7 linked regions of the Homo sapiens genome follow. The protein of the gene in region 1 purifies or fractionates together with the protein of each later gene. This does not show direct contact. Each region holds a gene or a part of one and is shown in the gene's direction. Other genes may lie near its edges.

Region 1 (4,295 bases):
ATATACACATCTTTTTAAATATTATACCAGCTAAGCGCAGTGGCTCACGCCTGCAATCCCAACACTTTGGGAGGTGGGAGGCTGAGGTAGGAGACTCACTTGAGTCCAGGAGTTTGAGACCAGCCTGGGCATCCAGGGTCAGGTGGTTGGGGTGACTTGAGACCCCATCTCTACAAAAAGTAAAAACAAATTAGCCAAACATGATGGTGTATGCCTGTGGCCCCAGCTACTTGGGAGGCTGAGGTGGGAGGATTCTTGAAGTCTGGTGGTTGAGGCTTCAGTGAGCTGCGATTGTGCCACTGCACTCCAGCCTGGGTGACAGAGCCAGAACCTGTCTCAAAAAAAAAAAAAAAATTATATAATTCATCTATTCAAAACTACTAAATAATTTTTTTTTTTTTTCGAGACAGAGTCTTGCTCTGTCGCCCAGGCTGGAGTACGATGGTGCGATCTGGACTCACTGCAACCTCTGCCTCCTGGGTTCAAGCAATTCTCCTGCCTCAGCCTCCCAAGTAGCTGGGACTACAGGTGCCCACCACCATGCCCAGCTAATTTTTGTATTTTTAATAGAGACAGGGTTTCACCATGTTGGCCAGGCTGGTGATCCATCCACCTCAGCCTCCCAATATTAAATAAATTTTTTAAATCCAAATACTAATATGAGAGGTTTTTGAACTCTCATAGAGTAGGACCCAGAGTGTGTCCTCAGGCTAAGGGAGGACACCACCCCTCATATTGTCTTATGCCCAGTTTCTGCTTCCAAAGAAAGAAAAAGTAAAAATTAAAAGGCAGAAATGAAATCCACAAGCAGACAGCCCGGCGCCACACCCTGGGCCTGGTAGTTAAAGATCGAGCCCTGACCTAATCGGTTATGTAATCTATAGATTACAGACATTTTATAGAAATGCACTTTGAAAATCCCTGTCCTGTTTTGTTCCAATCTAATGATCGGTGCATGCAGCCCCCAGTCACGTACCCCCTGCTTGCTCAATCAATCACGACCCTCTCACATGCACCCCCTTAGAGTTGTGAGCCCTGAAAAGGGACAGGAATTGCTCACTCTGGGAGCTCGGCTCTTGAGACAGGAGTCTTGCCGATGCCCCCCGGCCGAATAAACCCCTTCCTTCTTTAAGTCGGTGTTTGAGGAGTTTTGACTGCAGCTCGTCCTGCTACAAAGCCACCAGGCTATCTCTAGGATCCCTTATGGGGCCCCTCAGGGTCCTCTCTGACAACTCCTTCTTGGGTCCTGGCTGAAGATCTCTGCTGCCCCCAGACTCAGAAGAGCCACTCCAGGACTCAGGGAGTGGCTGGCTTTGGGCCAGCCCAGCCCTCCAGATCCAAGGCGGGTCCCCTATCTCCACAATCAAATGGTGTTCTGCCTCCGGCCCTGTCCGGGGACCCTGCTCACCAGCCACGGGCGGTTTAGGCCAACCTCCCTGCCTCCTCCCCAGTGCAGACGCAGCCTATAAAACCACCCTGTGTGTCCTTGCGGATCCTGGCCCCTCCCTGGACACCCAGGCGACAATGGCAGAACTGCCCACAACAGAGACGCCTGGGGACGCCACTTTGTGCAGCGGGCGCTTCACCATCAGCACACTGCTGAGCAGTGATGAGCCCTCTCCACCAGCTGCCTATGACAGCAGCCACCCCAGCCACCTGACCCACAGCAGCACCTTCTGCATGCGCACCTTTGGCTACAACACGATCGATGTGGTGCCCACATATGAGCACTATGCCAACAGCACCCAGCCTGGTGAGCCCCGGAAGGTCCGGCCCACACTGGCTGACCTGCACTCCTTCCTCAAGGTAAGTGCTGTCTCAGAAGACTGGCCACTTCCCTGCTGTGTGACCTCGACCCAGCTACCTAACCTCTCTGAGCCTCAGTTCTGTCATCTGTGCCATGGGGATGGAGGAGCGTCTTCTTCCTGGGTTGAGAGGCCCCAGTGAAATAGTGGAGCTGCAGAAATCTGGGCACATGTTGGAATGTATATTAGCCAATCACTAGCAACCCAAAGCTAGAGTGGGAGGCCTAGAGAGGTAATGAGCTTCCAGTGAGTAGAAGCATGCAAGCAGGTTGCACACCCCTGAAAGAGACAGGGCAAGAAGGGCCTGGGAAGGTTCACCTCAGAGAGAGGGCTCGCCGGGTTTGCTGCCCGGGAGGCTGGACTGTGAAGAGTGGAGGGCTGGAAGGTGGATTGTCATGACCCCTGTCTGGCCTCACTTTTCCCATATGACAATTGGGCTGAATTGTTCTTTTTTCTTTTCTTTTCTTTTCTTTTCTTTTTTTTTTTTGAGACGGAGTCTGGCTCTGTCGCCCAGGCTGGAGTGCAGTGGTGTGATCTCGGCTCACTGCAACCTCTGCCTCCTGGGTTCAAGTGATTCTCCTGCCTCAGCCTCCCGAGTAGCTGGGATTACAGGAGCGCACCACCACACCCAGCTAATTTTTGTATTTTTAGTAGGGATGGGGTTTTGCCATATTGGCCAGGCTGGTCTTGAACTCCTGACCTCAAAGGATCCACCCACCTTGGCCTCCCAACGTGCTGGAATTACAGGCATGAGCCACCACGCCCAGCCCAGAATTGTTCTTGATTCTGAGGCTAAGACTTACTAAATTCGCAGGCCTTTTCTCCACCCCAGAGCAAACCAAGACATGGCCCTTGGCTCCATACTGAGATGAAGTGCCAGGAAGAAAGCCCCAGAGGAGGGCGTCAGTCACTTGGGGCACAAACTAGGAGACCTCCCAGTGCCCCAGAGGTAGAGGCCTGGTTTCAAGACCCAGCCCTCCAGGGACCAACTATGTGGCCTTGGACAAGCTTTCACCTCTCCAGGGTGATAATAATCCTGTCGCCCATTACAAGGCTAGGCAACTGCCTAATCACTTCTAAGGCCACTGCTCTCCTAGGGGGAGGAGGTGTTATGAGCAGGAGCGCCCAGGACTCCCAGTCTCCCATGGCATCTGATCTTGGATCACTGCAACCTCCACCTCCTGGCTTCAAGAGATCCTCCTATGTCAGCCTCCTGAGTAGCTGGGACCACAGGTGCACACCACCATGCCCAGCTAATTTTTGTATTTCTTAGTAGAGACAGGGTTTTACCTTGTTGCCCAGGCTGGTCTTGAACTCCTAAGCTCAAGCAATCCACCCACCTTGGCCTCCCAAAGTGCTTTTACTACAGGCGTGAGCCACTGCTCCTGGCCTAGGGAGCATTTTAAAAGCCCCTCAAGCAGCTCAACACCCAGTGGGCTGAGGGGTCGGGGGGTGCTCGGTATGGGGCGCAGTGGTGCAGGTCAGTGGGCTGGATGCAGAGACGCCGTCCCTAGCACCCCTACCTGCCTGACTTGTGGTCTCTGGGCTGCCAGCAGGAAGGCAGACACCTGCATGCCCTGGCCTTTGACAGCCGGCCCAGCCACGAGATGACTGATGGGCTGGTGGAGGGCGAGGCAGGCACCAGCAGCGAGAAGAACCCCGAGGAGCCAGTGCGCTTCGGCTGGGTCAAGGGGGTGATGGTGAGTGGGGTGTGGGTGGTGCGTGATGTCCAGAAATGGGGGTGGGGTGGCAGAGCTCCATCCAGGCTCAGCTCTGACTCTCAGGCCCTGGTGGGGCTTCAGTTTCCCCATCTGTACAATGAATTCAATGAGTTAATAGATCAATAGACAATAGATTAAAGCCTGCCGGGGAGTAATTAGAAGAAACTGTGTTTCCCTAAAAAGCCACCAGGGGGCTGCACTAAACACACAAATCCGTAAATGTGTTTTTCTCCTCCATGAAGGGAAGGAAAAGGTTTGCTATAGTGAGGAGCAGGATTAAGTTTCCAGACAGTAGACAATCAAGGACACTTGGCTTTGGAGACATTATGGGACTTTACAGAGGGGATCTTATGGGATGTAGAAGGCTTTAGCCCTGCTCCGGGAGGCAGGAGGCTGGGGTTCTGATCTTAACGCTGCCAACTGGCTGTGCCTCCGTTTCTCCATCTGAACCACGAGCCCTCCCCGACCCCCAGATGCTCTTATTCAGAGCTGGGATCTCCCTCCTGGGCTGTGTTGCCAGAGCCGGGAACGGCCCTGCAACTCAGTGGGGCCAGCGACCACACCAGCCCCTCCCACCTGGAAGCTTCAGCCTCCATCTCGGCCTCTGGCTTTGCTTTAAATTTGGAAGCTGAAGTCACAGCCACCTGAGCTCTGATATCTGCTCTTACATGGGGCGCTGGCTCACCTGGCATTTGCTGAGCTCCCTGTAAATGCCAGGCTCTGGATCAACTGCTGACCACTGGGGCCATGGTCGGGGCTGGCAGACACA
Region 2 (4,143 bases), about 55 Mb from region 1:
GAGAATGGCATGAACCTGGGAGGCGGAGCTTGCAGTGAGCCAAGATCGCGCCATTGCACTCCAGCCTGGCAACACAGCGAGAGTCTGTCTCAAAAAAAAAAAAAAAAGAGAGAAAAAAAGTTCGGATTCCTGAAATCTATAGCTCATTCCCACTGGTGAGATGAACACTGTTGACATTTGGTATGTACTTTGCTGGGTTTCCCTCTCTACACTTACTGTCATAGAGCACAGATGGATGGACATATAGCATAGTTTCATAAAAATGTGATTGGAGGCCGGGTGTGGTGGCTCACCCCTGTAATCCCAGCACTTTGGGAGGCCAAGATGGGTGGATCACCTGAGGTCAGAAGTTTGAGACCAGCCTGGCCAGCATGGTGAAACCCTGTTTCTACTAAAGAAATACAAAAAAAAAAAATTAGCTGGGTGTGGTGGCAGGCGCCTCTAATCCCAGCTACTTGGGAGGCTGAGGCAGGGAGAACTGCTTGAACCCGGAAGGCGGAGGTTGCAGTGAGCTGAGACTGTGCCATTGCACTCCAACCTGGGCGACAGAGCGAGACTCCATCTCAAAAAAAAAAAAAATGGGATCGGGGTGGACATAGTCGCTCATCCCTGTAATCCCAGCACTTTGGGAGGCTGAGGTGGAAGGATGACTTGAGGCCAGGAGTTAGAGACCAGCCTGGGCAACATAGTGCAACCCCATCTCTACAAAATAAATAAAAAATTTAAAAAATTAGCCAGGCGGCACATGCCTGTGGTCCCAGCTACTTGAGAGGCTGAGGCAGAAGAATCACTTGAGCCCAGGAGGCTGCAGTGAGCCATGTTCACACCACCACACTCCAACTTTGGTGAAAAAATGAGACCCTGTCTCAAAAAAAAAAAAAAGAATCATATTGTAAAAAATGCTTACAAGTTGCTTTTCTTAACCTAACAGTACAACTCAGATATCTTAAATACATATATATGTTTGTCTATTTATAAATATAGTTTTAAACTATTATCTAAACATATTGATGAATGTTGTTATATTTATAAATATATTTCTACCTAAGTATTACCTTTTTAAGAATCACTGCCGAGACCAGCTCGGTCGGGGAGACCTTAACCCAGCGGCACTAGAGGAATTAAAGACACACACGCAGAAATATAGAGGTGCGAAGTGGGAAATCAGGGGTCTCACAGCCTTCAGAGCTGAGAGCCCCGAACAGAGATTTACCCACATATTTATTAACAGCAAACCAGTCATTAGCATTGTTTCTATAGATATTCCATTAACTAAAAGTATCCCTTAAGGGAAATGGATGGATGGGCCGAATTACTTGCAGCAGGAACACGCCCTTAAGACACAGATCTCTCAGGCTTTTGTTTGCGGCTTAAGAATGCCTTTAAGCGGTTTTCCGCCCTGGGCGGGCCAGGTGTTCCTTGCCCACAACCTTCCAGCTTGGGTGTTATGGCCATTATGGACGTGTTACATTGCTGCAGAGATTTTATTTATGGCCAGTTTTGGGGCCAGTTTATGGCCAGACTTTGGGGGGCTTGCTCCCAACAAACCACCTTCATTTATAGTGACACACAGTGTTCCATTCTGTGGGCCCATCAACATATACTTAACTGATTCCCTACCGATGGCTAGTTAAGGTCATTTCTTTTTTTTTTTTTTTCTTTGATTCGGAGTCTAGCTCTGTTGCCCAGGCTGGAGTCCAGTGGCGCGATCTCAGCTCACTGCACCCTTCACCTCCCAGGTTCAAGTGATTCTCCTGCCTCAGCCTCCTGAGTAGCTGGGATTACAGGCACCCACCACTACACGCACCTAATTTTTTTTGTATTTTTATTAGAGACGGGGTTTCGCCATGTTGGCCAGGCTGGTCTTGAACTCCTGACCTCAGGTGATCCACCCGCCTCGGCCTCCCAAAGTGCTGGGATGACAGGCGTGAGCCACCACCTCCAGCCGAGGCCATTTCTGTTTTCATTCTTTGCTTCCACAAGTAGTTATCAAGTGTTCACTACTGTAATCCATCAACTGTAAGATGACACTGACCGTTAGAGGTAATGGTTACTTTGTCTATCACTAAGAAAGAAAAATGCCACACTTACACTATGGCATTTTATAGTTTAAGATGCATTCTGATTTTTTTTTTTTTTTTGAGACGGAGTCTCGCTCTGTCGCCCAGGCTGGAGTACAGTGGTGCCATCTCGGCTCACTGCAAGCTCCGCCTCCCGGGTTCACGCCATTCTCCTGCCTCAGCCTCCCGAGTAGCTGGGACTATAGGCGCCCACCACCACGCCCGGCTAATTTTTTTGTATTTTTAGTAGAGACGGGGTTTCACCGTGTTAGCCAGGATGGTCTCGATCTCCTGACCTCATGATCCGCCCGCCTCGGCCTCCCAAAGTGCTGGGATTACAGGCTCGAGCCACCGTGCCCAGCCAAGATGCATTCTGATTTTAAAATCACTTTACATATGAGAGCTGTGTCCCTGAGAACCAGTGGAGTGCAGTGTGTGCCAGATGCCGTTCCAGGTGCTGGAAGTGCACTGGGCGTGGAGCTGCGGGTAAACGAGTCCCCGCCCCGCAGCTGCCCTGGCACTGATCCTGCCAAGGCACTGCTTCCACCTTCCCTGCTGCTCTGCCCGCACCACTGTGTCGACTGCCTCCATGTAGGCACCAGGCTGTCCTCGAGGGCACTGTGTGAGGTGTGTGCCTGTGTTCTTACCCCATGCACTGAGTTATTTCTGTGATGGCCACAGAGAAGATGGGAAGAGGCTTCCTCATAGTAGAGGGAGGCGTGGCGCCTTCGGCTTCTCTTGCTTACAGTCATGAACTCATGTGGGGCTTGAGCAAAGAAACAGCCGGGTGGCATGGGGACACAGCTTTCTTTCCATTTTGGCTCCAACATCCCTCTGGACTGGAGCGTTAGATAACTTCTGTCTATGAAATTTCATAGCTGACAAACTCCCTTTGCCCTGTATCGGATCTGAGTTCATCTTCACAAGCCTGTATGTAACCATTACACCCACTTACCAGGTTAGGAAACTGAGGCTTAGAGCCTTCACAGGGATGAAACAAGTTGGGACTCTCTGGGGCTCTCCCTGAGTAGCGCCTTCTCCACAGCAGTGCCTCGAAGTCCTGGGACAGAGGCTGCATGGCTGTGTGCATCTAGTGTGTCTGCTGGTTGTTGCTTTGCTCGTCACAAACAAAACAAACTGACAGCTGTCTGCTTCCCTCCCAGCCCTCCTATTGGTGTGGGAAGCCAAGGGCGGTTGCAGGGAAGGAGGAAGAAGACAGTGACCCCGAGAAAGCACTCAGAAACGAGTACTTTGAAGCCGAGCCAGAGGACCTGGTGGCGGGGATCAAGATCAAGCACCTGTCCAAGGTGCCGCCTCCTGTGGGGACAGGGAGGGCCGGGGCTGCCAGGACCATGGGAAGACTTACCAGCACGGCAGTGAGACCTCATAGCCCGTCAGGCGCTCCCTCTGAGCCTTGCTCCCTCCTGCCCTGAAGGAGGGCAGGAACCCTCCGCTGCCCTCTAACCGGTTCCCCAGGGCACAGACCACATCTCCAGCTTCTCAGGAAATGCCAGACTCAGCCGTCCAGCAGTGCCTCGGCCTCATGGGCCTCCCAGGGTTGCAGAGACACTGAGGGTGTCTGGGACGTGTTGGGGCTGGGGGAGACCGGAGGGGAGCAGCCAGGAGCAGCATCTGCCCGAAACGTCCCTCCCCTCTGCACACTGATGGTGACGCTAGGCTTGGTTCCTTCTGAGACGGTCGGGCAGGGGAGCAGGAGAGGCCTTGGCCGTGGGCCTCGGGGCTGTGGGTAGCCCAGGGCAGCCTCTGCCTTTCCTGCAGGTGTTCAGGGTGGGAAATAAGGACAGGGCGGCCGTCAGAGACCTGAACCTCAACCTGTACGAGGGACAGATCACCGTCCTGCTGGGCCACAACGGTGCCGGGAAGACCACCACCCTCTCCATGCTCACAGGTGAGGGCCAGGCGCCTCACGCCCCTGCCACCAGCAGGCCCCCCTTTAACACCATCTCAGCGCCAGCCCCGCCTCACTCCCTCAATGGGGCTTTCGGGCCTTCCCCAACCACAGCGGCAGGAGATGCACCTCAGCCCTGCAGGCCCAGGGGCACAAGCAGGGACTGCCCTCCTC
Region 3 (4,143 bases), on another chromosome or scaffold:
TTGGACCTTCAAAATAGGCATTATGTAGAAAAGTGATTTTTTAAAGCAGCTAATAGGATGGCATAATAAATACATTGGTATATTTGACATCAAAAATTATCTTTTCTATAGTATGTTAGCAAAAAATCTAAAAGGTCTCTTTCTGGGTTTGAACTATTTTAAATTAAAAATATTTACCTACTCTAATCCAAATACACTGTTCCAAATATATTATTCAATTAAAATGTATGTAAAATGTGATTTTTAATAAACGTCAGAGAAAAATAAAACTATAGATTGTTGTTTTCCAATTTAGGAAAGCATTTTACTAGGAGATACATGGGAATTCAGAAATATAAAAATTATGTCTAAATTTGCTTCAGAACAATAGAAAAGATAACTGTGGGGATTATTGTGAGATGATATTCTGTGTATTCATAATTTTGTATAAACAAAGTGTAGGTGCATTATGTAGTAACACAGTCAAGAAGGCATGTTTTGGTGAGCTATTGGTTAAAAATTTAATCTGAATTCCACCATGATCACTTTTCACTTAAAAATGTGGTCTTAAAATTTCTGAAAAATGTAATACACTTTGTAACAACCTCCTGTTATATTATTACTATTGTATTATACATTACATAACAATAATATATAAGGCCAAATAAGAATAATATATTGTTGGCACAGTAGTTCACACCTGTAATCCCAGCACTTTCGGAGGCCGAGGTGGGTGGATCACAAGGTCAGGAGTTCAAGATCAGCCTGGCAAACATGGTGAAATCCCATCTCTACTAAAAATACAAAAATTAGCCAGGAGTGGTGGTGGGCACCTGTAATTGCAGCTACTAGGGAGGCTGAGGCAGGAGAGTCGCTTGAACCTGGGAGGCAGAGGTTGCAGTGAGCCGAGATCATGCCACTGCACTCCTGGGCAACAGAGCAAGACACTGTCTCAAAATAATAATAATAATAATAATAATAATATATCGTTAATTTTTAAGTACATTTAAGATTAATTAAATATTATTTAACTATGACATATAAGAATAATATATCAGATAATATAAGGATATGGATGTCTTTTCCCTGAGAAATAAATATCAGGAAAATAAAAGAAACAAAACTAAGAAACATAAACGCTTTTTAAAAAAATTATTAAGCTACATTGATCTAAAGATGTCCCATCTGCTATCAGTAAGTGTTTTCTTCTTCTGCCTCTTCACAGGTTGAGCTTAGGAGAATGTCAGCTTCTCATTAGGGGCAATTTCTATTTATGGAAAGAAAGGTTTTCTTCAGAAATAAAAGCAGAAAATTTGGAGTTTATTTGTTAATTCCCATATGCAGACATTGGTCACCCAGTGAGAAAATTGCAGATTGTCCTATGAGACATGCTCAGGTGTGTAGGAAGATTTGTACTCACACTACATAAACAAAGATCAAGTAAAAGTAGTTTTACTTGTAAAATAATTCTAAGATGATTAGTTTGAATTTAGAAAAAACTTAATGGTTCATTAAAATAATGATATAGGGCATTTTTAGAACCACGAGACCGTTATGATTTAAGTTTTGTAACTCAGTATGAGCATTTTTGACCATTCATTTTTGAACGTACAATCATGTTTTTTCTCTGCTCATGGGCAGGTCTCGTATACCTTTGGCCGATGATCTGGCTTCTTTCTAGATGTGTCTTTTTCTGCAAGTGGATTTACATATCCATTTTAACGAAATTAAAAGACACCGTGTATTTCATTAGTAAAATCTTTGATTGTTTTATTTTCTTTATAGGTATGCTAATTTTTGTTTTGCTTTATGAACATTGCTGCTGAGAATATATTGCATTAATCCAAAATTCTGCAAAGTCACCCCTTTTAAAGAATTTTGGATAGGATTAATTCAAAATTCTTCAAATTATTAATCCCAGATTCTCCAAAGACATAACTAAATTTTTTCCTTTTAGAGTAATTATTATTCAGAGTGGCCAGAAGTAATGACTTTGCATTAAAAAAATTCAAGCCAAAGATATAACCTTATGCCATTTTAACCAGTTAGGTTTTGTTGTCGTTGTTGTTGTTGTTTGAGATGGAGTCTCGCTCTGTCACCCAGACTGGAATGCAGTGGCATGATCTCAGCTCACTGCAGCCTCCTGCTCCCGGGTTCAAGCAATTCTCCTGCCTCAGCCTCCCGAGTAGCTGGGACTACAGGCGCTAGCCACCACACCCAGCTCATTTTTGTATTTTTGGTAGAGACGCGTTTCACCATGTTAGCCAGGCTGATCTTGAACTCCTGGCCTCAAGTGGTCTGCCCACCTCGCCTCCCAAAGTCCTAGGATTACAGATGTGAGCCACTGTGCCCAGCCTCAAAGAGTACATTTTTAAAAAGCAGTTAACTTTTTACTTGTCAGATTATCACTAAAATAATAAACATTATTATGTTGTTGGAAAAATGACACAAGTTACAATGATGACGCATAAAATTCAGCAGGATTGAATAATGTTTCAAATAAATGAGAAAAATTTGTCAAAGTAAAAAGAAGACATGAGAGCCAGAAGTAAGAATGACACATAGTTTTAGATACATAAATTACATGCTGAGGCTGGGTCATAAACGTGGTTGGGAATTTTTACTCATTGTTTCCAAAAGGGAAAAATAAGCAGTTACAAGATTCATAGAATACAGAAAGCAAAATGAAAGTTTCTCAAAAGAAGCATTATTATTCTTGAGAGAGAGAATAAAGATAGATTTTTTTCCTCTCCTTATGATGAGAAAAAATTTGAGAATAATAAATTACAGCCTGTGTTAAATACCTCAACGTTTATCATAGAGATGTTTTCTACATGATCGTTTCAATTTAGACTGATGGCACCAAAAAGTGCAACCTGGCAAAAATGCATCTCAAGTTCACTGCTTTTTGGTAGATGCTTAAATATCTAAGAGAATAAACTCACAATCTTCGTTCAATTCTCCATAATTCTATTGTCTTCAGCCTGATGTTTTGAATGGTAGGAGGTGGCAGGATCAGATTCCTTGACAGAAATCGGGATTGCATTGTCATGTATATAAGTTGAGACTGATCTTGCCTCATTTCTCCATATGACAGTGTCATGAACCTGGACGATTTGACAAGGAGAGGGCTGTATCTAAGTGACATCCCTCTGCATGATGCCACGCGCGATCTTGTTCTTTTGGGAGAACAATTTAGAGAGGAATACAAACTCACCCAAGAACTGGAAATCCTCACTGACAGGCTACAGCTCACGTTAAGAGCCCTGGAAGATGAAAAGAAAAAGACAGACACGTAAGAATGTAACGCTTGGAGCACTACTGTTATTCATAACATAATGTGACTCTACTATATTTAAGTTTGAGAACCAGACTAAAAAGCCATGTGACCTGTAATAGCTCTGGTGTAGTAAATAAAATCTTTCACATTGCTTTTAAAAAGAAATTATGCTTAAGGAAATAAACCAGTCTTAATGGTGGTGGAAATATGTCTGCTATTTTTAGAAGCCAAGTTGGAATAATATAGGCCAAAATATCTTTTGGAAAATCATGAGAATAACTCAAATTCAAATTTAGTTCAAAAATTGAAGTTTAACTATCATTTATTCCTGCATTCTTTCATACAAGAGTTATATATTGACCATCTTCAGTATGCTGGGGGCTGCCGCGTGCAGAGAGCTGCTCTGCACAATGAACTTAACCACTGGCCATTACATGTTTAAAAATTTATTTTCTGGGACCTTGAATTTAGGATTAGAAAGAAATGAATCTGACAAATTGTAATATTATATGTAATGACAACAATTACATCTATAGTGACATACATTAGCAAAAATATCAAAATATAAAACATTTCTATGAGTGGTGGATTCAATTATGAAATATTGAGCAAGGACATGAAAGATAATACTTGATTTTCAAGAAATGTATTTAAGTAAGTACATAGCATGCATACTACTTGGCCTTGCTTTCATATGCTAATTAAACGCACATCACTGACATTTATAAGCTATTTTACCCAGGTTCTTATGTGTTCGTTTTTTAATGTTTATATAAACATTTGGCGGAGCTTCTAAGACCTTAGGACTAACGTTCAAAGTCACATGGGTTTGTAGGTTTGAGTTACTCAATATTCTGTTCTGGCTGTTTGTATTAGAAAATCAT
Region 4 (4,143 bases), on another chromosome or scaffold:
AATGACTTATAATTTTATTTTTGTTTTCTTATAGGGACTTAAGTCACAACAGATTATCTTTCATCAAGGCAAGTTCCATGAGCCACCTTCAAAGCCTTCGAGAAGTGTGAGTCTTCGTTATTTTGTTTTTAAGGTTTGAGTAAAATACGTTACCCCTTATACTATTTAACCGTAAGGAATACTTGGATTATAGTGAGTTATTCAAAACTTTTAACTTGGGTGGTATCTTGAAATAATATGTAAAGTTTTCACCTCTGTGAATTACAGATTACCTAATCAGCTTTTCTTTTTCTTTTTTTTTTTGGCATTTGTAGGAAACTGAACAACAATGAATTGGAGACCATTCCAAATCTGGGACCAGTCTCGGCAAATATTACACTTCTCTCCTTGTAAGTGAATATCAGCAGAATTCCTCATGTATGTTTGCAGGAACCTTGAGTGGGAGTTCCATAGGGACTAGCATAGAGATCTTAGAAGAAAAAAATGGAATATTTTTTTCAGGGCATAGTAAAGATACGCGCTTTAAATTGGTTAACTTGTTTTCTAGCCTCTAACTCTCTCACTGCTAAATTTCATGTATTCTTATAACAACACACTTTACACTTTGCTGTTGTTGCCGAACTGGTCTTCGAGATTCAAAGAGGCCAGCTTTACACCATAGAAATGTGTATTTTATCGTATTCTGTAGACTAGGACTTTAATTTTAGTATCGCTCAATGGTTGGCATGGGGATCTGTGGGTTATGTATTACGTAGTTCCTAGTGGAGAATGATCAGAGTTGCTTTGTGAGGAGAAACCGGAGTTGAGAATAAGCCATTGGAGTATCCTGTTTTAAGTGTGGTACCTGCAGTGTAAATCAGAGTTCAGAGACATCAACTCAAAAAAAGTAAATATGTGACTGAAGACAGAAATAACTTTGCAGGTTGTTTTGCAAATATGAGTTTTCAAATACAATTAAGGTTGTACCAAGTTTTCTGTATTTTTAGTGTAGGTAACGTTGTATATACATGCACTGACGTAGGTTTTGGAATAATTCTGACTTTCAGCATTTAAAGGTAGCATTTAGAATGCCTGTGGTTTAATTTCTAAAATCTAATTAGCTTACCACCTTAATCTTAAATAATTTAAAAATATATTTAAGCTACTGATGTTAAAAAATGTTTTTCTTTAAGCAACTTAAGGAAAAAACCACCATTGTTAGTTGCTTCTGAGAGAGGTGTTGGGAGGGTTGAAATTATACAGTAAATTTCAGGAAAGCTGTTCAATTAATAGAGTGATCACTACCCAATTGCTTACATCTGGTGATTTATAGAGGTTTGTTTTTACTGAGGGCCCAGGTCAGCTAAGTCACGGGTGCAGCCGCTGTGTCTGCTTTCCTCTGTTTGAATAAGAGCTAAGTGACATTTGATACTGATGTGGTTTTTCCAAAGATCAGAAACAGAAAGGAGTGAAAGAAAAAGCAGTCGGTATTTGACAAATAAACACTGTATTTAAAAAACATTTTTATGCTAGCATAAATACCTTTTTTCTTTGTCTTTTACAATTGCTTAAAATTTTAGAATCTAAATGGAGTGCTGGTTTTGGTATCGTAAACATCTGCAGCTATTCTTGTTTGACCAAGGTGGCCTTTTTAAATTCCACTTTGCTCTTGCTGTCCTCGCACTGCATATTGGCAGATTCTGTCAGTATGTTTAAGAGAGCTTGAGGGTCATGGCATACTTCATGGCTGAGAGGATCTGCAGTGCAGTTTTGTAATCTGGGCAGCATGGGGAAAGCAGTCTACTCTTTGGCATGGTATAGCGTTGAGAGCATTAAGAACTTGTGAGGAAGTTAGAAAATTATAAGTAACCTAGTGTTTTATACTTTTTTTTTTTTGAGACAGAGTCTTGCTCTGTTGCCCAGGCTGGAGTGCAGTGGCACGATCTTGGCTCACTGTAAGCTCCGCCTCCTGGGTTCACACCATTCTCCTGCCTCAGCCTCCCAAGTAGCTGGGACTACAGGCGTCCGCCACTACGCCCGGCTAGTTTTTTGTATTTTTAGTAGAGAGGGGGTTTCACCGTGTTAGCCAGGATGGTCTCGATCTCCTGACCTCGTAATCCTCCCGCCTCGGCCTCCCAAAGTGTTGGGATTGCAGGTGTGAGCCACTGCGCCCAGCCCCTAGTGTTTTACACTTTAACGTTATAACTTATAATTAGAAAGCTACAATGATCTCTCAAAAGTTAGAAATTTGTGCTCCTTTAAAATTTGTCCTCTTCTCCATATTGTTTTTGTGTTTCACTTTAGCAAGTGCTGGGTGTGAAATCACCCTGAATAATTTCACTTTCTTTCTCCTTAATGTGTTACAATACCTCTGGCCAGTGATTGCTTTGTTCGTCTCACATAATGATACATCCAATGTGTTACCTAGATTACATAGACTCTGCGAAGAGTAATTTATATCATGGGCCTGATAATTCAATGTGGAGAGTAAAAACTTCTTTTTATACCTATGAAATATCTTGAAAAATTTACCTCTCTGGTTGTTTTCATCTACGAATGTTTTGTTTCCTCCTGCAGGCTTGATTGGATATTGTAATATACAATTATTGTTTCTCAAGCACTTTTAATTTGTGTTGTGTAGAGTAAAACATTTTCTTTTATATAAAAACACTTGAAAATAAAGCTAAAAATGAGTTCTTAAATGCTTTTCTGAGATTAAAAAAAATCTGTTAAGTTATATAACATGACACAGATTGAAAACTTGCTGTAGCGTCACAATTAAATCTCATATCTTTCAAAGTAGTTTTTAGAATGATTTGACTTTCATATTAAGAGTTTTTTGTGGTTGTTTTTTGTTTGTATCTTTTACATTTTGCAGAGGAAAACATTTTTATGAGTTATTTGCACAGGTTAAATAGTTTGAAAGCTTGTGTGTAAAGAAAATGAGTAATTAGTTGAAGTCTTAACCATAGGATTTAATATTACTGCTCCATACTCTTTCTACTCTGTGCCATGAAGACCCCTCCCAGCTGGAGGGGCTGCATGCAGAGAAGACTGTCCTGGTGAGACTTTTGTCTTCTCTTAGCTATAGGAGCCAGGAGCTGATAATTAGATCAAAGGGTACCGCATGTCCAGAGACAAATTCAGTTAGGGACCTATTCTCATAATATCAGGGAATCTGGGATGATAGGAATCTGCGATAATCTTCCCACTAACAAAGCTCATCTCTAACCTTTTTAGCATGCACAAGGCCTGAATAGACATGCTTTCCTTTGAATCCCACACAGAACTAGCTCAGAAGTCAACCAGTGTGCTAGGTGCAAGGCATGATTTGTATGTTTTTTAAATTTTTCTCTCACAATATCCTAGCTATTGCAGGATGACATATTTTAAAGAAGTGGAATAGTCTTTGGAATGAACATATCTTACAGTAAAACTCTATTGACCTGGCTTACATGAGGGAGTTGATTTTTCTGAATGTATGAACTCTGGCTTTGCGTGGTGTGGAATGACCTGCTCGAGCATTGGACATGATTGAAATCTGTGCCTTGGGTTAGGGAAGTTTGAATCTGTGAGTTCTACAGCATTGTAGTTGAACAAAAGAGCCTTGTTGGTTATTAAACGGAGCTAGTTGGGTCTTAGTCTTGATGCTAATGGTTTATATAGTGTTACCCAGCATGCAGATGCTTGCCTGGTGTCCTAGAGTTGAAGAATGTTAGGTCAGTGACTGTCAAAGAGGCACCTAGGGTACTTGTTTTTTTTGTTTTTGTTTTTGTTTTTTTTTGAGACGGAGTCTCGCAGTGTCACCCAGGCTGGAGTGCAGTGGCTCAATCTCAGCTCACTGCAAGCTCCGCTGCCCGGGTTCATGCCGTTCTCTTGCCTCAGCCTCCCCAGCAGCTGGGACTACAGGCGCATGCTGCCACGCCCAGTTAATTTTTGTATTTTTAGTAGAGATGGGGTTTCACCGTGTTAGCCAGGACGGTCTCGATCTCCTGACCTCATGATCCGCCCGCCTCAGCCTCCCAGAATGCTGGGATTAAAGGCGTGAGCCACCGCGCCCTGCCAGGGTGCTGGTTAGATTATCAGACACTATCCCTAGAGATTCTAAATTAGTAGATTTGGGTGGGGCCCAGGAGTATCCATTTTAACATATGCAATATTCTT
Region 5 (4,143 bases), on another chromosome or scaffold:
ATCCATACTTGGTTCTGCTTTAACAGATTGATTACTTTGATAGGATTTGATAAGCTACACTTTTGAAAATTAGTAGATTATTTTTAAGAGTTAGCAAGTAAGTAGATTTAGAAATTAATCAAGGGAGCAGTGAGATTTACAAGGGAAGACAAACCCATGTTAATCAAAGTTAACACAGAATGCACGATGGGAATTTTAGTGCGCCCCTTAGTCTTTATTATAACAGGATAAATAACTCCATTTAACAGATAAATAACGCCTTTTGCGTAAGCAAAGGTCATATCCTGCCTTGTTTCAAATTTCTGTTTTTAAAAAAGCATTTCTGAGTAGAATTTGAGTTCTTAAAAATTGTCTGAGTTGATGTTCCAGCTTGTTTTTTTTGTTGTTGCTGTTTTTGTTTTGTTTTGTTTTGTTTTTGAGATGGAGTCTCACTCTGTCACCCAGGCTGGAGTGCAGTGGCGCGATCTCGGCTCACTGCAAGCTTCGCCTCCTGGGTTCACACCATTCTCCTGCCTCAGCCTCCCGAGTAGCTGGGACTACAGGCTCCCGCCACCACGCCTGGCTCATTTTTTGTATTTTTAATAGAGACGGGGTTTCACCGTGTTAGCCAGGATGGTCTCATCTCCTGACCTCGTGATCCGCCTCGGCCTCCCAAAGTGCTGGGATTGTAGGCGTGAGCCACCGCACCCAGCCCCAGTTTGTTTTAATAAGCAATAACATTATTCGAATTTGGTGTATGATACTTTGAGCGATGCAGATATGTATTGAATTTCAGGAATTGACAATCTTGATAAGGTTTTAAAGGTTTAGGGAAGGTCTGAGCCTCTGTTTACTTTCTAGAACTACGCTTGTCGTGTGTGTGTCGACTTTTTCTATCGGCTGTTTATAATCACTTCGCCTATAAGCACTTTTTATTACATTATTTTCTATTCATGATCCCTGCTTTCAACTGGTATGGTTGTACATTTACATGTTTGAGCATCTTGGACTTTATAAGATCTCATATTTCCCATATTTCTAAACTACTTTTTCTTAAGTATCTCAGTGGTAGTGACAATTGAAATGTGCAAAGCTAGCTAGCTACTGATTATTAATTACTCTGTCATCTGAGAAACTTTAAAAATATTATGTTTAAAAATAGTATCATCAAAATCCTTTTATCAAGATCTTGATTTGGTAAAAGGTGAAAATAATAAAAGGGCACAGCACAATAGAGACAGGATGCATTTACCCTCTCCTGCTCCGCGGTCACGCTCCCGCCTTGATCCTCAAGAGAGTGGCAAATCTTGTGGCTGCATATGCATGCTTCTGCTTCTCTGCAGGATGCAGGGTGCAGACTTGTCCAGCAGGCACAGGAGGAAAGCTCAGCACCAAAATACCTTTATGAATCAGTTATGTTCAAATATGTTAAACATCTGAGGGGTGGAGAGAAAAAAAGGATGCCCGAGGAAGAATGACTAAACTTAACATGACCACAAATAATCCTCTCCGGTAGTTCAGTAGGTAACTTTATTTTGAACAAAATTTTATGGCAGATGAGTTGAAAGGAGAAGAAATTTTCTGAAATTGTCATCAGAAGTCAAAGAGTTTTGCTTTTATTTTAACCCAGGCCAAGAAGGCGCAGTACCTGCACTGCTTCATGAAACAAAAAACAAAACGTGTTATCAACCCAACTAAATGCTTAAGATTTTAAGACTCACCTAGTCCTTCCCCAGGTCAGCCTGACACCTGGCCTGGCACCACTAATCATGGCACAGGTTCAGAACCAAGGTCAAGCATTCTGAACTGGGGATAGGGAAAAGGGTGGATTTTCCCTGAAGCTCGTGTAGCCAGTTTCGGGGTCTCTCAATTTGAGGGGCCCCTTCCAAGACCCTGTACCTAATTTTGTATTCATTATTTTTTTCTTAAAGAGAAGGCTTCAGGACCCACAAAATCTGGGTCCACTCCTGGGTGAAGGTATCTGTGAACCTCCTGAAGACAAGAGTGTGAGCGAGGCTGTGTGGATATGTAAATGTGCTTCCATATTTTTCTGGAAGGGTCTGTGTAGTCTTCTCAAAGCCATCTATGACTTACAAAGGTTAAAGAACTCAGGCCTCGGAGAAATTAATCAACCTCTTAATTCTGGTCTTATAACACCACACTTATAAAGTGATGGTTTAATTGCTAGAGGCAACAATTTGTGACTCAAGTAGAATAGCTTCCTGAATGTATCACAGGACACATTGATCACCAGAGACATAGATGAGAATGTTCTTGATGGTTGCTCATCTCATTGGAATACACACTCTCATATTATTCACTCGATCAGTCATTCATTCATTCATTCCTAAACACTTACTGAGTACCTGCTCTGTGACTGCAGCCTGCTAGGTTCCAAGATTTCAGAGATGAATTAGGCAGACTCGCTGCTTTTGAGGAACTCACATAGTTCCTATCAATCAATTCAGCTGAAGGACTCTGCATTCTTTCTCCAGGTTCCCACATATATGTGAGTGCTGTCCTTGAGATCTTGAGGCTATTTTAAATAGAAATGGAAGCTCTTCAGCATAAACCTCACTCCAAAATATTACGCAAAAAGCCACCCTCATAAGAGAGCTGTCTCCTGGGGATGGGGACAGGTCTTCGTGCACCACTGAGCTCCAGCTCTTGCCTCCCCCTGCCATGGGAAGGATGGTCCCATTCTGTCCAGCTGTGTGCCTCCTTACGAAGGACTCAGAGTGCAGGGAGACCAGCAGGATATCGGCCCGGATACCTGAGGAGTGCAGCAGTAAATAATGCTTCCACTGTCATTATGGTTGAGAGACTTTTCCTTGTGGCTAACAGCTGTGTTAATTCTGCTGTTAGCCTTCTACAGACAGAGCAAGAATTCTTCCCACACAATCACATATAAATAGGAGCCTGTGGAAACTGGGCTGTAGAAGTTGTTTTCATTTCCCCATTCCTATTCTTTGTGTCTTGCATTACCCAATCCTTTGAATTCAAATCCTATTGATTCTACATCAAAAGTCTGTTGTTCCCTCTGCCGTCATCCTGATAGAGGTCCTCATTATCTCCCATTTCATCTGTTGCTACAACTTACCACTGGATTTTCTACCCCATTCTCCTGCCTCCCTTCAGTCCACCCCACACATTCCTGTTCCTGTTACCTTCTGCAAAGCACCATTCCAGTGTCTCTCCTGTGCATGCTGAGATGCAGCTTCCCAAACAGAAGCCAAAGAGGTACCAGGAGGTTGCTAGAGCGCTTGGAAGGGAAGACTGAGCAAAGTACCATGGTTGTTCAAAGATACTTTGTGCTTCTGTGGATTTCCTGTCCTGTCCTGCACCGCCTCTGGGCTGCCCCTCCGCCCTAGCATTTTTCCTTCCATCTAGCATTTCTCATCTGCTCCTTCCACACCCCTCCTTCCATCTCTCAAAATGTTATTCAGGTTTCAACAGGGGAGTCCCATGTTATTGGGGGAGGCACCGATTCTGAAGCAGGTACACGAGGTGAAAATATCATCAATTGTGCTTCGAAACTAGAGCCACCCTGACAATAGCCAGGTGCTCCTCTCTCCGCTTCCCTGGACACCAGCTAAGAAGCCGGTGAACAGAAACCACTGAGAAAAGCTGCACAGTCAGGTCCCCAGCTTCTCAGCTCTGCCCAAGCAGGGTTTCCCAACCTGTTCTCTATCTGGCATGAAGAGAAAATGATGATAGTATTTGTATGGCACACAAGGTACTTTGAGGGGACTGAGTGTGGGGTTATGTGGGGTGGGTCACTCTTGGCGCAGCCCTCCTGTGGCAGCAGACCAGCTGGGAATCTTTGTCCTAGGGATGTGTTTGCTGAATCATGGCTTCCATGGTTGTTGGTTGGTTTGTTTGTTTTTGAGACAGGGTCTCACTCTGTTGCCCAGGCTGGAGTGCAGCAGCGCAATCTTGGCTCACTGTAGCCTTCACCTTCCAGGTTCCAGCAATTCTCCTGCCTCAGCCTCCAGAGTAGCTGGGACTACCGGCACCTGCCACCACACCCAGCTAATTTTTATATTTTTAGTGGAGACGGGGTTTCACCATGTTGGCCAGGCTGGTCTCAAACCTCTGACCTCAAGTGATCAGCCCGCCTTGGCCTCCCAAAGTGCTGGGATTACAGGCGTGAGCCACCACACC
Region 6 (4,143 bases), on another chromosome or scaffold:
TAACTACCCATGTACTAGGCTTTCTAGGACTCAGAAGAGTCCCTTTCCTACTTTCCAGTGTCTGGGAACCTATTTACTCAGAAGATGAGACTTAGAAGGAGAGCATGCTTAGCTAGGGGGTGCCTCAGGTCTCCAGTTTGAACCCTTTGCTAGACAGATGAGGGAGCTGAGTCCAGCACTTGGAAGAGACCTGGCTCAGGTCATGCAGTGGGCCAGGCTGCCCATTTTTTCTGTTGCCCTTTCTACTACCCTACTGAAGCTTTGCCAGGCTTTTTCACCATAGGTGAGCCTCCTTGCCTCTGGACTCTATCTAGCTTCAAAATTTCAACCCAAAACTGTTAGTTGACATAAACTCAGAGAGGTGATCTCATCTCTGCTTATACTGCCAGGTAGATGTCTCTGCAGACAGTAGCTCTATTAAACTAATATGATATTCTTTGGCCCCCAGGGAGGTAAAAAGCAGTATTTTTTACTTCGCTGAATTTTTATTTGTGTCTTCACAATCTGGGGACCTTTCTCAGCCTTCTCTTTGCCTCACTCATATAATTCCAGGGTCTTTAGCCCCTCTGGAGGCTGCCTTTAGTGAGTGGAACAAAGAGAAGGAAAGGGTAGTGGTGCATTGTTTCTTTTGGGAATTACTTTTGGCTATAAGTAGAGAACCTGATTATACTCTGCCTTAAAACACGAGGGATTTTGCTTTACTCATGAAACAAGAAGCCTAGAGGTTAGCAGTTGCTGAGTTGGTCCAGTAACTCATGGACATTGAGGCCACATTCTTTAAGATTCTCTTGGCCTTTTTCTCATGATCGTGAGATGGCTGTTATACCTCCAGCCAACACATTTGTGTTCCAGGTAGCAAGAATCAAAAAGGGGAATGGTATCTATATTAGAAAAGCAAAGGCTGTTTCTGAAATCCCCGTAGACTTCTGCTTAGGTCTCATTGACTTGGTCACGCCTAGCTGCAAGGGAGTCTTGGGAAGCAAGTGTTTAGCTTTCCACTGCTAAGATAGAGGAAGCTGGGGGAAAGGGGATTGGAATAGGTGTTCAGTGAGGCTACCTCAGGTGACTACTTGGAATCAAAGTATCCCACTCTGCGGTTTTTATGATCTACATTTGCCATGCATTTCAGACACACCCCTTGTCCTTTCACAGCCCACTCTCTGAGTCAAGTCTTAATAGTCCCTGCAGGCAGACACTGCAGATGTGTTTCAGGGAGTTGCCACAGGCCGCATGGTGATGCAGAGGTGGTACTGAGCCATACATTTAGGTTTCCAGCCCATGCATTTGGACTCCTCCCCCATCCTCACTGCTTCTCACACAGCAGGGTGAGGCCTGGTGCCACGGAAGTCTCATGAGTCTCTTGTCTCCCAGGCCTAGCATCGGTGGAAGCCTACAGCTACAAGACCAACGAGTGGTTCTTTGTGGCCCCGATGAACACGCGGCGGAGCAGTGTGGGTGTGGGCGTTGTGGAGGGTAAGGAGGCGGCAGTGGCCAGTGGCCAGGCCTACCTGGCCCACGGGCCTTGTCCTGGGTCCAGCATCATGCTTGGTGCTTCCTCTACCGTGTTTTTTTTCCTGAGATCACTCCTCTGGGTTAGGTACTATTATCCTGATTTAGCGGATGAGGAAAGTTGAGACTCAGAGAGGTGGTGGAGCTCCTGGCCCAAGGCTGCTAAATGTTGGAGCTGGGCTGGGGGAGTAGAAGGAGCCTAGAGGGGAAATGCCGGCCTGTGGTTTGGCCCTGTGTCAATAGCTCTGCTAGAAGTTGGGGAAGGGAAGGGAGTAGGGAATCCATATTCAGCATATAACCCAGGAGGATAATGTAGTAGAGTGAGAGTTAAATGTGCTTAATTAATTTTGTCCTCATATTCATATGTTGAACATTAACAGAACTGTGAGTGAGGTAGGCACCTCTTCTTAGGTCTGATGACTCTCTGCAGGGCAGGCTGGTGATTGAGTCCAGTTCTAGTCAGGAAAGCTGTGTAGGGTAAGGTAGGAGGGAGTGGTGAGGTCTAGGGCCTGGTCAGATGGTACACTTTTGTTTGTAAAAAAACCTCTCATTTCTAGTCTCTTGTTTTGTTTGCAAAACCCTTGTGAAGGAGATAGGCAGGCCTCAGATTCTCTCCATCCTCCAGATGTCCCACATTCCAATGACAGTAAATAACACAGCCTGTCCTTGAACCCAGGTCTTCTGACTCCTAAGCCGGTGTTCTTTCCACTGTGCTATGCTCCTTCAAAATGCTGACAAATGCCAGTAGGTAGGAGTTCTGTAAATATGTGTGAATTCAATGTACCAAAGCATAGAATATTACTTGAACTAAAATGTTGTCATTTGCAGGACAACACTGATTCATCAACTTGTAGTAATGTGGGAATTTAGATGGAATATCTGTTCATTCAGACGTGTATGCAGACATTCCATCTCTCATGTACACACTCAGAAATACACATGCAAACACAAATGTGCCCTGGGGTGAGTGTAACATCCAGCGAGTTAGACATTAATAGAAAGATTCTTTTCTCACACTGTATTTCTCAGTCTGCACTGGTATTGTGTAATTTAAGTTTTCATTTAAAGGTGTACTATTCTAACATACTAAATAAGTCATCTATGTGAGGGCAAGGATTTTGTCCTCCTACCAAGGTAAATTGTATCTTGCAATCTCATTCTCTTGGTGGAAGAGAAATTGATTTGTCTGCCAAGTGTAAGTGCTTTGTCTAGCCACCTTCTCATTTCTTCTCTTGTTCCTTAGCCAGGAATATCAAACAATAGAGTAGGGGTTAAAAATAGCAAATCCCTGTTAATAGACTCAAGGAGGAACCTTGAGTGCATATTTTTTCAGCTGATGCAGATGGAATGGTTGATGGGGGTTAGAGGAGGTGCCATAATGGTGGTAATTTAAAATACTCCCCTTGACAAAGGCTTTTGTGAGCATGTTCTGTATGTGGAAGAAGTGCTGTCTTGTAGCATGCCCTGTTGACGTGGAAGACAGGCTGGGAATTTGTTTCTTCTGCCCTTCCTGAATCTGAAGCTCTTTCAGCTGTGGGCACCCTGGGGCAGCAGAGTTCAATTTACAGCTGTGGTGAGAATGTTGAGGGAGGGACTTAAGTGGACTCTGTCTTCTTCACTGTGGCCTTGAAGAGACAGCTCTCCACACTGTCTGGCTTCCTCTCCTCCCTCTCATCATCTCATTACCATGGCTATACAGTTTGAATGACACTGAACAAAAAAATGGAGGAAATCACAATAATTTGCTACTGGCTGCCTCGAAGAATACCTATTTAGGAAAAGACTCTGTGGATTGGAGTGTAGGCAGAAGCTCCTAAGAGAGCAGAGAGTGTGCTATGGATATTTCGCATCTGAACCAGCACATACCATGCAAGTAGCCTGGACCCTAGAAGAGCTGCTTAGTCAGGTTTTTAAAAAATTTTGACTTTGGTGAGTGCAGAACTGAGGACGATGTGTTTCTTTCTTTTAGATGGGTCAATTGAGAGGACCCTGGGGCAGAAAACAAAGCCAGGCTCGATGATGATAGAAGAAAAACATTTTTATATTTGATAATACAGCAGTAGTTCTGGTAGCAGAGTATAGGTTTGAGCCTGAGAATCTTTCTAACTTAAAATAATTGCAGATTTTCAAATACTAGTAGTATTCTTGGTGTCTGTCCATCAAGAAAGCACATGTGACCAAAAAATCTACTGAGTAAGTAATCCTGTTAAATAGATTTGCATTTGGTGATATTTATTTAGTCTACAGCTAGTGTGACTCCTCCCCCTGTTCCCACAGAAGAGACCATCCCATTGCATTTTAAGACTAAATTTTAAACCCAAAATGTTTGAATTTCTGCTTTGGGATAGCTCAAATGCCAAATTTTTCCTCCTGTGTCCAACCTCACTCTCAGCCCTCAGCCCCCAGCCCCAGGCAGAAATGATGCTCTTGGGTAGCAGCTTAATGGTATTTTAATTTAAAAGTAAATGACGGCACCTCAGGGCTCTTGTGCATGGCTCAGAGATCACAGGGTAGTCTGCAGAAAAATTCCAGCCACCCTGGCCCACAATGTACAAAGAACACTCCATTCACACACTCTACCTGCCAAGGTTGTGGAAGGGGTAGAGACAATGGCTAAGACAGGTTTTGGGTTCT
Region 7 (4,143 bases), on another chromosome or scaffold:
AGATGTGGATTGATAGAAGTCATATAAATGAAAGCTCTTTTGAGGTCTTCAGTAATTTTTTTTCGCTTCCTGTACCATGCATATCAGTAATTTTTAAGAGTATAAAACGTTGCTGAGATCAAAAGTTCAGAACTGCCACTCTAATCTAAACTACTGTCTAGTCTAAACTATTATTCTATACTTCTCATCTCTATATGTTAAGGATTGATCTCCAAGATAAATTGTTTTTTGTTTGTTTTTTAGAGACAGGATCATGCTCTGTTGCCCAGGCTAGAGTGTAGTGGAACAATCATAACTCACTGCAGCCTCAAACTCCTGGGCTTAAGTGATCCACCTGCCTTGGCCTCCTGAGTAGCTGGAATTCCAGATGCAAGGCACCATGCCTGGCTAACTTTTTAAAATTTTTCATAGAGATAGGGTCTTACCATCCTGCCCAGGCTGGCCTCAAGCTCTTCACCTCAAGCAGTCCTCCTGCCTCAGCCTCCCAAAGCACTGGTATTACAAGAGTGAGCCACCACGCCCAGCCCAAAATAATTTTTTTTTAAAGCAAGATGTAGAAAAGTGATTATAATATGTTTCCATTTAGGCAAGAAAAAAAATGGAGAGGACTATACCTGTACTCTCTGTACATAGGATCCACAGAAAACTTCTAATGATGGTTATCCCTGTGGTGGGAAACTGGGGGACAGGGAATGATGAAGCAGGAAAATTTTTACTGTATAAACTTTAGTTCTGTTGGCTCTTTTTCTTCTATCATGTGTATGTTAACTTTTTAAAAACACAGTTTAGCCAGGCACGGTGGCTCACACCTGTAATCCCAGCACTTTGGGAGGCCAAGGTGGGCAGATCACAAGGTCAGGAGTTTGAGACCAGCCTAACCAATATGGTGAAACCCCATCTCTACTAAAAATACCAACATTAGCCAGGGCTGGTGGCGCATCCCTGTAATCTCAGCTACTCGGGAGGCTGAGGCAGGAGAATTGCTTGAACCTGGGAGGCAGAGGTTGCAGTGAGCTGAGATCGCGCCATTGCACTCCAGCCCAGGCAACAAGAGCAAGACTACGTCTCAAAAAAAAAAAAAAAAAAAAGCAAAAAATACAGTTTAAAAAGATAGCCATAGGAAAAAGAGAGAAAAAATTATAAACAAACAGGGTGATTAACTGTTTCTTCTGGCTTTGCTGTCCTGTAGTTCATCTCTCAGGATCTTAGCCTGAACCTTGGTGTAACAATTAGCATACTTGTTCTACTCACTTGCAGGGATATAGGAAGAGTAAATAGTAGATGTAAAAGTACTTTGAAAGGCATTAAGTTCTGGGTGGGAGAAGGACATTGTTAATGAATTTGAATGTTTCATTAACGTGTGCACTAATTTTCTTATAGGTTTGTTTTGGGTCCCACAGATTGGAGGTAGGATCGATGTATTATCTTGCAATTAGTTGTACAAAAGGGACCTTTATAGACATACATGCTTGTGATTTTTTTTAGGATCAAGAAATGCAGAAATTACTATGAAATTCTGGGAGTTTCTCGAGATGCTAGTGACGAAGAGCTTAAGAAAGCTTACAGAAAACTCGCCCTGAAATTTCACCCTGACAAGAACTGTGCTCCTGGAGCAACAGATGCTTTCAAAGGTCTGATCCTGAACCAATGCTCAATGGTGCCCTTGTCATGGTTGGTCATAATAAGTTGCTTTTAGCCTTCCCCATAGTTGTTTTATAAGGCCATAAGGAGGGTTTTTTCCCCCTGCCACACCTCTTAAATAGTGATAATCAGCATAGCTCCCACTTGATTTTACCTAGGCTGGAGTGCAGTGGTGACATCTCAGCTCACTGCAACCTCCACCTCCCGGGCTCAAGTGATCCTCCCACCTCAGCCTCCTGAGTAGCTGGGACTACAGGTGAGCACCACCATGCCCGGCTAATTTTTGTATGTTTTGTGGAGATGGGGTTTTGCCATGTTGCTCTGGCTGATCTCAAACTCCTGAGCTCAAGTAATCTGCCCGCCTAGGCCTTCCAAAGTGCTGATATTACAGGCGTGAGCCACTGTGCCCATCCTCCATGATATTTTAAGAAATATATTCTTCAGGCTGAGCGCAGTGGCTCACACCTGTAATCCTAGCACTTTGGGAGGCTGAGGTGGGAGGATTGCTTGAGCCAGAGGTCAAGGCTGCAGTGAGCTGTGATTGCACCACTGCACTCCAAGTCATTGTTACAGGCAAAGATCTTCAGTGAATGCTAAAACCATTGAGTGCTAGGTAGTTGTCGCCTATGGGGTATTCTTGCCAAAATGTTTGACCTGAATCTAATAATGAGGAAACAATCAATATGAAACATTCTACAAGAATACTGATCTGTTCTTCCAAAAAATTTAACATAATGAAAAACAAAAAAGGTGGGACAGTTTTAGCTTAAAAGAAACTAAATGCTATACTTGATCTTGCATGGATGCATTGGATGATAATGGACTGATGTTAATTTTCTTAGCTGTGATAATGGTGTTGTGATCACATAGGAGAATGTCTTTCTTCTTGGGAGATATATGTTGAGGTATTTAGGGGCAAGGTGACGTAATATCTGTGGCCTATTTTCAAATGGTTCAGCAAAATAAATGTATAATTATTACAATACATATGTACATATGTATATATAGAGTTGTAGGTAACAGAGTGGCAAGGCAAACATTTAACAATTCCCCAGGTAAAAGAATCATGAAGAAATACTCTTTCTGTGTTTCTGACAGTGTTGACTGAATTACAGGTAGGGAGTGCGGGATGCCTTAAAAGATTTCTTTTTTTTGAGGTTTCTATTGATTGGTGCTACGGATTGTATGTTTAAATGAAATTGGGCAAGGTTTGCACGTCTGTACATAGAAAGGAGACATGTTGGTAAACATATGTAACTATTCAGCCTTTGAACCCTCCTTGAGACATTGGAAATACATTTCTTAATTTCAGAAAATATTTGTCTAAAGTAAACTGAAATAAGACTATGATGAAGACTTTGTTTTTAGTCAAGCAGGAAGGTTTCTACTAAGATTGTTTCAGAAGAGAATTCAGGAAATTTTTTGGACTACAAGTTAAAATATCACTACTGATGTGTGAACTGTTTCCAACATAAACTATTGCACTCAAGTGAAATAAGAACACTTTTTTGGCCAGATGCAGGGCTCACACCTATAATCCCAAACTTTTGGAGGCCAAGGTGAGAGGATCACTAGAGGCCAGGAATCTGAGACTAGTCTGGGCAATGCAGCAAGACCCTATCTCTAAAAAAATTTTTTTTAAAGTAAAGAGCACTCTTTGTGTGTGTGTGTGTGTGACAAAGTCTCACTCTGTTGCCCAGCCTGGAAGGCAGTGGCATGATCTCGGCTCACTGCAACCTCCCAAAGTGCTGGGATTATAGGCATGAGCCACTGCACCTGGCCAGAACACATTTTTTATGAATGAGAGTGCTGACCAGTTGGAGAACATTTCCCCAACATGCCTGGGACTTGTGGTGACTGGGAACCCGAACTGAGGGGGGCTTCCTAACTTCTAGGACAGCTGGGATGACTACAGGACTGTTGATTGGGAGTTAACTCACTGCAGCAGAAGTTCTTAATTCCTGTGATTCCAATGTTGTTGTTTCTGGCGATCAGGGAAAACCTGAAGGGCAAGCACTGTGGAGAACTTTCTAGGCCCAAGCATCTCTTCTTGGGCCCCTGCGAAGTTGTCCAGCACGAGTCACCTCTAGGCTCTTTGTCACTGCTGCTGTGATCACTCTCAGCCATAGCAAAGACTGTGTCCTCATGTGCTGGTTCTTGTTGGTTGCAGCAATAGGAAATGCATTTGCAGTCCTGAGCAATCCTGATAAGAGACTTCGCTATGATGAATACGGAGATGAACAGGTGACTTTCACTGCCCCTCGAGCCAGACCTTATAATTATTACAGGGATTTTGAAGCTGACATCACTCCAGAAGAGCTGTTCAACGTCTTCTTTGGAGGACATTTTCCTACAGGTTAGTCTCCCCAAATTATCATTCTTAAACATATTTCTTTATTTATGGCTCTCAGCAAGCTCCTGTTTGAAAATCTGAATAGAGGTACAATGGTATGATGGAAACAGCAAGGATCTAGAATCAGTTGAGCAGGAGTTTGAGGCAAG

The links.
Region 2: the proteins of SLC12A3 (region 1) and ABCA3 purify together in Homo sapiens (affinity purification with mass spectrometry; one large-scale study listed by BioGRID and IntAct). This does not show direct contact.
Region 3: the proteins of SLC12A3 (region 1) and GUCY1B1 purify together in Homo sapiens (affinity purification with mass spectrometry; one large-scale study listed by BioGRID and IntAct). This does not show direct contact.
Region 4: the proteins of SLC12A3 (region 1) and LRIG3 purify together in Homo sapiens (affinity purification with mass spectrometry; one large-scale study listed by BioGRID and IntAct). This does not show direct contact.
Region 5: the proteins of SLC12A3 (region 1) and CDKAL1 purify together in Homo sapiens (affinity purification with mass spectrometry; one large-scale study listed by BioGRID and IntAct). This does not show direct contact.
Region 6: the proteins of SLC12A3 (region 1) and KLHL3 purify together in Homo sapiens (affinity purification with western blotting, with the first as the bait; one study listed by BioGRID). This does not show direct contact.
Region 7: the proteins of SLC12A3 (region 1) and DNAJC18 purify together in Homo sapiens (affinity purification with mass spectrometry; one large-scale study listed by BioGRID and IntAct). This does not show direct contact.

What each region holds. Positions count from the first base shown.
Region 1 is NC_000016.10:56,863,712-56,868,006, forward strand, and holds the start of SLC12A3 (solute carrier family 12 member 3), read left to right. Parts: upstream 1-1,495; 5' UTR 1,496-1,524; coding exon 1,525-1,806; intron 1,807-3,358; coding exon 3,359-3,505; intron 3,506-4,295. UniProt on the Homo sapiens protein: Electroneutral sodium and chloride ion cotransporter, which acts as a key mediator of sodium and chloride reabsorption in kidney distal convoluted tubules.
Region 2 is NC_000016.10:2,299,229-2,303,371, reverse strand, and holds part of ABCA3 (phospholipid-transporting ATPase ABCA3), read left to right. Parts: intron 1-3,223; coding exon 3,224-3,367; intron 3,368-3,839; coding exon 3,840-3,969; intron 3,970-4,143. UniProt on the Homo sapiens protein: Catalyzes the ATP-dependent transport of phospholipids such as phosphatidylcholine and phosphoglycerol from the cytoplasm into the lumen side of lamellar bodies, in turn participates in the lamellar bodies biogenesis and homeostasis of pulmonary surfactant.
Region 3 is NC_000004.12:155,796,801-155,800,943, forward strand, and holds part of GUCY1B1 (guanylate cyclase soluble subunit beta-1), read left to right. Parts: intron 1-3,076; coding exon 3,077-3,274; intron 3,275-4,143. UniProt on the Homo sapiens protein: Mediates responses to nitric oxide (NO) by catalyzing the biosynthesis of the signaling molecule cGMP.
Region 4 is NC_000012.12:58,910,228-58,914,370, reverse strand, and holds part of LRIG3 (leucine-rich repeats and immunoglobulin-like domains protein 3 isoform 2 precursor), read left to right. Parts: intron 1-34; coding exon 35-106; intron 107-314; coding exon 315-389; intron 390-4,143. UniProt on the Homo sapiens protein: May play a role in craniofacial and inner ear morphogenesis during embryonic development. May act within the otic vesicle epithelium to control formation of the lateral semicircular canal in the inner ear, possibly by restricting the expression of NTN1.
Region 5 is NC_000006.12:21,226,314-21,230,456, forward strand, and holds part of CDKAL1 (threonylcarbamoyladenosine tRNA methylthiotransferase), read left to right. Parts: intron 1-1,490; exon of another isoform or gene 1,491-2,515; intron 2,516-4,143. UniProt on the Homo sapiens protein: Catalyzes the methylthiolation of N6-threonylcarbamoyladenosine (t(6)A), leading to the formation of 2-methylthio-N6-threonylcarbamoyladenosine (ms(2)t(6)A) at position 37 in tRNAs that read codons beginning with adenine.
Region 6 is NC_000005.10:137,634,624-137,638,766, reverse strand, and holds part of KLHL3 (kelch-like protein 3), read left to right. Parts: intron 1-1,371; coding exon 1,372-1,473; intron 1,474-4,143. UniProt on the Homo sapiens protein: Substrate-specific adapter of a BCR (BTB-CUL3-RBX1) E3 ubiquitin ligase complex that acts as a regulator of ion transport in the distal nephron.
Region 7 is NC_000005.10:139,426,026-139,430,168, reverse strand, and holds part of DNAJC18 (dnaJ homolog subfamily C member 18), read left to right. Parts: intron 1-1,485; coding exon 1,486-1,631; intron 1,632-3,811; coding exon 3,812-3,997; intron 3,998-4,143.